2 separate regions of the Homo sapiens genome follow, and region 2 is linked to region 1. The links come from fine-mapping of genetic effects on gene expression. A gene starts in region 1. The other region holds a variant in brackets. All regions are shown on one strand. Distances are from middle to middle. Region 1 holds the start of RPS6KA1 (ribosomal protein S6 kinase A1). Region 2 overlaps RPS6KA1 (ribosomal protein S6 kinase A1).

Evidence for each region. PIP is the estimated chance that this variant, and not a neighbour inherited with it, causes the effect.
Region 2: its variant is fine-mapped to the expression of RPS6KA1 in whole blood (INTERVAL, PIP above 0.99).

The regions. Positions count from the first base shown.
Region 1 is chr1:26,528,493-26,531,394 of GRCh38, forward strand. It overlaps RPS6KA1 (ribosomal protein S6 kinase A1), which reads left to right and starts at 1,269. Exons shown (of 22, transcript NM_002953.4): 1 at 1,269-1,491. The coding sequence starts at 1,429. It overlaps LOC124903884 (a long non-coding RNA gene), which reads right to left. Exons shown (of 2, transcript XR_007065558.1): 1 at 2,706-2,902; 2 at 628-2,069. RefSeq lists a silencer at 1,154-1,633 and enhancers at 1,875-2,785, 2,786-2,902.
Region 2 is chr1:26,573,446-26,576,347 of GRCh38, forward strand. RPS6KA1 (ribosomal protein S6 kinase A1) reads left to right here. Exons shown (of 22, transcript NM_002953.4): 22 at 634-1,580. The coding sequence ends at 756. Among named protein-coding and RNA genes, the nearest start is that of MIR1976, 20 kb to the left of the region's middle. The variant G/A (reference allele first, on the strand shown) is at 1,383.

The sequences.
Region 1 (2,902 bases):
TCTTTCCGAGCTTGTTTCAGGATTTGTAAACTAGGTGGTGGTAATCATTCAAGGAAATCACATGGCTCGCAGGAAGCTTTTGATAAACATTCCTTCCCATTCCCCTGCCTTAGAACAGCTTTGCAAATAACTGACCAGTCTTCCTGCGAAACCAGCAAGCTTGTCCCTCCAGCAAGCTCACTCCTCACATGTGAATACATCTCAGCACACCCGGACCCCTAAGGCTCTTTAGGTGGAGGCTGAATCTCTCTGGGGCAACCAGTCTCCCTGGCCTTTCACTCCAAGTCCCACCAAGCCTCGGTTCATCCTGGGAGCCTGGTCCCTCCTCAGAGAGTCGCAAACCCAAACTAGTCCAGAGCTGGGGCTGCAGGTGACTCCAGGGAGACCTGACCTGAAAGGACCCCCTTCAAGTGATAGGGCAGAGCACAGATTGCAAAAACGCATATTAAGAAATCACTCTTGGCCGGGCGCGGTGGCTCATGCCTGTAATCCCAGCACTTTGGGAGGCCGAGGCAGGAGGATCACTTGAGCCGGGGAGTCAGAGACCAGCCTAGGTAACAAAGCGAAACTTCGTGTCTCTCTCTCTCTCACTATATACACACATACATACATATATGTGCATATATATAATATTTATTTATACATATTTATTTATATATGTAATATTTATATACATTATGTAAAATCAATCGATCAATCAATCACTCTGTGGTGGCACTATGGGTCCTGATGGTGGTAACAACTGCTGATGCCCATCTTGGCCTGGGGCACTGAGATCGCCCGGAGATCACAGTGTTAGCTTCAGGGCGGGGTAGAAATTAGAGGATAGGGGATCTCTAGGGCCTGGTGAGTTGAGGGCCTAAGGGGAGTGGGTCTCAGGCTCCTTCCAAGCCTCAGCCTAGATCAGGCCCAGGAACCCAGTGTGAATGTGTGTGCTGGGGTCGGGGATAAGGTGCTTCTCTCCCGTTGGAAGGAGAAGGAACATCTGGGCTGGGATTCCAAAAGAGCTGAGCGGGGGAGAACGGTGGCCCTGGTGTGGTGTGTCCAGGGGTACACCACTGGAAGGGAAGGAGCCAGCAGGGCCTCTCCGGCGGAGCCGAGCGCGGGCCGGGGGCTCGCGGCAGGGGCGGGGCCGGCCCTCGGGGCGCGGCGGGGGCGGGGGTCCGCGCTGGGAATGCCGCGCCGCGGGGGCTGGGGCGGGGCTTCTCCGGCTCCGCCCCCGCGCAGGTAGCCAATGGGCGCGGCGGCGCCGGGTGACGGAGGGAGCCGAAGTGCTAGTGCCGCGGCGGCGGCGGCGGACGGCCCAGCCGGAGCGCGAGGGGCTCGGGGGGGCGCGGCGGTTCGGGTCGCAGAGCCAGGGACCCCAGGACCCGGGAGGCGGCGCAGCCGGGGCCGCCGGAGGAGCGCGGGTGACCTGGCGGCGGCGAGATGCCGCTCGCCCAGCTCAAGGAGCCCTGGCCGCTCATGGAGCTAGTGCCTCTGGACCCGGAGGTGAGTGAGCGGGGCGGGGGACGGGCGCCCGCGGCCGGCGAGCCCGGATCCTCACAGGGGCGGGGCGGCCCGAAGCGCCGCTGCAGTCCGGCGGGCGCCCGCGAGGGCGCGAGTGCCCTCCGATCTCTTGCCCACTGTCCGGCTCCACCCCCCTATGCCCGGGTGTGCGTGTGCGAGGGACAGTTCCGCCAAGCGCCGACTACCTCCCCGCCATAGCCAGGAGAGGGGATCCTATGGGGCGCTGAGATCTGGTCGCCTTCACCCCACACCTAGGACCCGTCCCGGCATCTGTCCAGAGCTGTCGGAGCTTCCTCCATTAATGCAGACGGGGAGATCTTCAGTGCCAGATGTCTGGGATTCTACCAGAGACAGGGGTTATGGGACCCCCACTTCTCCCAGGGCCCTCCGCCAAGAGCTCCCTGCTTCTGGCTTCACCGCTGCTGAGCCTAGAAGGATTGCTCCTCTTGACCCCTGGCGGATGCGGAGTGTGGGATGGCACCACCCGTCTGGGGCTGGAACTCCTGGTTTTCTTTGCCCTGAGGCTAGGGCCAGAGGACACCTGTGTGCCCTACCCCAGGCTGTGGAGACGAGAGTGGGGAAGAGCCCTTAGACCTTGTGAAGATGATTCCTGGCAGGGCGTGGGGGGACCTTGGTGCCTGCCTCCCTTCTTATGCCCCTTCCGGTAGGAAGGGCTGGGCCCTTGGGGAGTTTGGCTTCTGCCAGCCCAGACTCCCCAGACAACCCAGCTCCTTCTCTCTCAGAAGCAGCTCCTGACCTCCCTTGAGGGCTCTGTGGCTCCAGTCCCTAAGCGTGCAGAAGGCCACCTCTTCCTGTGCCTTTTGACCCCAGGGTCAAGGTCAAGCCCCTGAATGAGCTGGTGGAAAACTTCCTCCTTAACCTCTTGCTGGGAAGGAAGCAGGTGATATTCTCCTTCCCAGGTGGTTGTTGGGGGTATGCAGGGAGGGAATGGAGACCTCATTTGAGCCCAGGAGCTGAGATGACTTTCTCCCAGCTTGGGCCTGGAGCCCCTGTCTCAGTCCCCTCCTCTGCCCTCTCTTACCTAGGGCAGCCACCAAGTGTCCTGCCTCTCAGGACCACAGGCTTAGATCAGGGTGAGCACCCAGGGTCCCCAGCCCCCAGGGTGTGCTGCCCCTTTAAAGGGATGGCCGACACTGGCTATTGGAGGGTGGGCGCGGCAGGATTAGGTAACCAACCTGAAGGAGCAATTTGGAGTAAATTGCTCTGGGATTCCTGCCATGGGGATTTTACAGGCACTGCTAGGCTGCTCAGAGGTTCTCTCGCTGACTCACCCTCTGAGGTGAGGAACACTGCCCTCTGCAGCCCCTGTACTGCCACCCCGCTACTAGGACCGGGGCGCAAGGTCCTGGGGGTGGTGCTCAGAGGTGGATTC
Region 2 (2,902 bases), 45 kb after region 1:
CCATGTCTGTACCAAGCACCATGAGGTGGAACATAGGAGAAGAAGACACAGCCCTGCCGTCAGGGAGCCTAACATGCTACAGTGTCACGGTGCACTCACAGCCCCCAATCCTCTGGAAGGCACAGCTGCTGACCTCTGAACCCTCCAGTCTGATGGGGGAGGCAGGACCCATGACCATAAAGGACCACTGAGGCTGGATTAACAGTGGGCTAGGCTGGGCGCGGTGGCTCACACCTGTAATCCCAGCACTTTGGGAGGCTGAGGTGGGTGGATCACGAGGTCAGGAGTTCAAGACCAGCCTGACCAAGATGGTGAAACCCCATCTCTACTAAAAATACAAAAATTAGCCAGGTGTGGTGGCAAGCGCCTGTAATCCCAGCCATTTGGGAGGCTGAGACAGGAGAATCGCTTGAACCCTGGGGGCAGAGGTTGCAGTGAGCCAAGATTGTGCCATTGCGTTCCAGCCTGGGTGACAGAGTGAGACTGTATCTCAAAAAAAAAAAAACAACAAAAACAAAACCAAAAAAAGTGGGCTGTGGAACACTGAGAGGGGCTGGCCTACCCTTGGGGCATGGATCCCCTCCCCGCTACATCTCCCACCATTGTGACCTGACCTCCCCACTTCTCTTTCAGGGAGCCATGGCTGCCACGTACTCCGCACTCAACAGCTCCAAGCCCACCCCCCAGCTGAAGCCCATCGAGTCATCCATCCTGGCCCAGCGGCGAGTGAGGAAGTTGCCATCCACCACCCTGTGAGGCACCAGGGCATTCGGGCCACAGGGCGGTGCTAGCTTGACACAGTCAGCATGCTTCCCAGAGGGAGCAGGCCGGAACCACAGGGCCAGAGGGAGCTGGAACCCGAGGGGCCGGGGAAGCTGCCAGCCCAGAACACCCCTAATGAGGGTGTGAGAAGTGCCTTCTCCTTCCCCAGGATGGACTCTTCTCGGCTCAGGCTCTGCTGGTGGAAAGCGATTCACTGTATAAACTTTTTTTTATGAAAAAAATGGCATCAACCACCATGGATTTTTACAAGATCCATTTGCCTTTCTGGGAGCAGAAACAGCCATTGCGGCCCCAGGAGGGGAACTGAGTCACGCTGGGGCTCTCTGAGACTCTTTAGAGCAGCTTTGGGATCCCACCCTGGGGACCCCCACGATTGGCCACCTGTAGCCATCTGCACACACCTCCGAGACAGTCCAGTGTCACCTCTCTCAGAGCATCTGGCTGTTTAGCAGAACTCATTCTATCCCCAATCAGCTCCTTTTCCGTTCTGTTCTGCTGGGAGTTCTAGAACCACTTCCTGCTACAGGAGGGGTCTCATGTCCTGCTGGCTTCCAGCTTCAGGCACCAGCATCCACCTTGGCTCTGCCAGTGGATCCCCT[G/A]CGGTCAGGCTGGGCAGCCCCAGAGAGAGGATGTGGAAAGCACTTTTTGGCTGACTTCATCTGGGGTTGGCAACAGGACAGAGTTCACAGGAGGCCAGTGGGCGGGCCATGAGGGACAGGGTCTTTTTTCATTTCTTCCTCAGCTGGTTACTCAGGGTTCATCTGTCCATGGCCTTTCTAATAAACTGTTGAGTTGAAGCACGCTCTCCTGCACTCTTCATCCCTGAATTTACCCTCTCTCTGCTATCGGATGTTGAAGACATTGGCAGTGACAGAAAATGGGCCAGGGCCAGTTAGCCCAGCTGCTTGGAACCAGGTCATCTGGGGAGTGTGTGGGAATCCCGCTGGCCTGGCCCACGTGTTCCTGCCAGGGGATTCCATTATGGTATTGATAACAGTATTATTAGCCAATGGTGACCAAGTGCCAGGCACTATGCCTGGGCCTCACATGAATATCTCATTTAATCTTAACCCTGTGAGGTAGATGCTCTGTATTATCCCTGTTTTATAGATGGGGAAACAGGCTCAAGTTGGGGAATGACATTTTCTCATGCAGTATTTTCTGAGCACTCATTCTGGCCCTGTTCTGGATGCTGGTGAACCAGGTAAAGAACAAGGTCATTGTGTCCAGGGGTCTTACTTCCCAGTAGGGGAAACGGACACTTAACAAGCCATGGTCAGCTACTGATAAGACACATACAGAATTAAACTGGGGTGAGATATTGGGTAATCAGGGAAGGCCATTCTGGGGAGGTAACCCAGGAGCTGAGATCTGAATGGTGAGAAGGGGTCAGCCAAGACTGGTAGGCAGAGGGCAGTCAGGACAAAGGCCATGAGGGGGAAACAGGCTCGGTGTGCTCAGGGATGAGAGGAGGCTGATGTAGCTGTGACCCCAGAGCCAGGCGTTTGCCCAAGATGAGGCTGGAAAGGAGGCAGAGGCCAGTTATGCTAGGCACTGTAAGCCAGGATTAGGCGTGCATTTAATTCTGAGTGAGGCGCAAGCTCCTAAAATAATTTGAGCAGGAAAGTGACATGATTTGATCATGATTTGATTCACATTTTTAAGAGATCACTCTGGGCCAGGTGCAGTGGTTCACGCCTGTTATCCCACCACTTTGGGAGGCCGAGGCAGGCAGATCACTTGAGGTCAGGAGTTCAAGACCAGCCTGGCCAACATGGCGAAACTCTCTCTACTAGAAATACAAAAATTAGCTGGGTGTGGTGGCGCATGCTCCCACCCATCAGCTCGCAAGGCTGAGGCATGAGAATTGCTTGAATCTGGGAGACAGAGGTTGCAGTGAGCCGCGATCGCACCACTGCACTCCAGCCCAGGCGACAGAGCGAGACTGTCTCAAAAAAATAAAAGATCACTCCGATTGCTCTGTAGAGAATTTGGACAGTGAGGTGGGGAGGCAGGAGGGAAGCAAGGTGACCAGGTTGGTGGCTACTGCAGTAGCCCAGGCAAGAGATGAGGTGGCTTGGACTAGGGTGGTGGGATGGAGATTGGGATGGAGTAGATG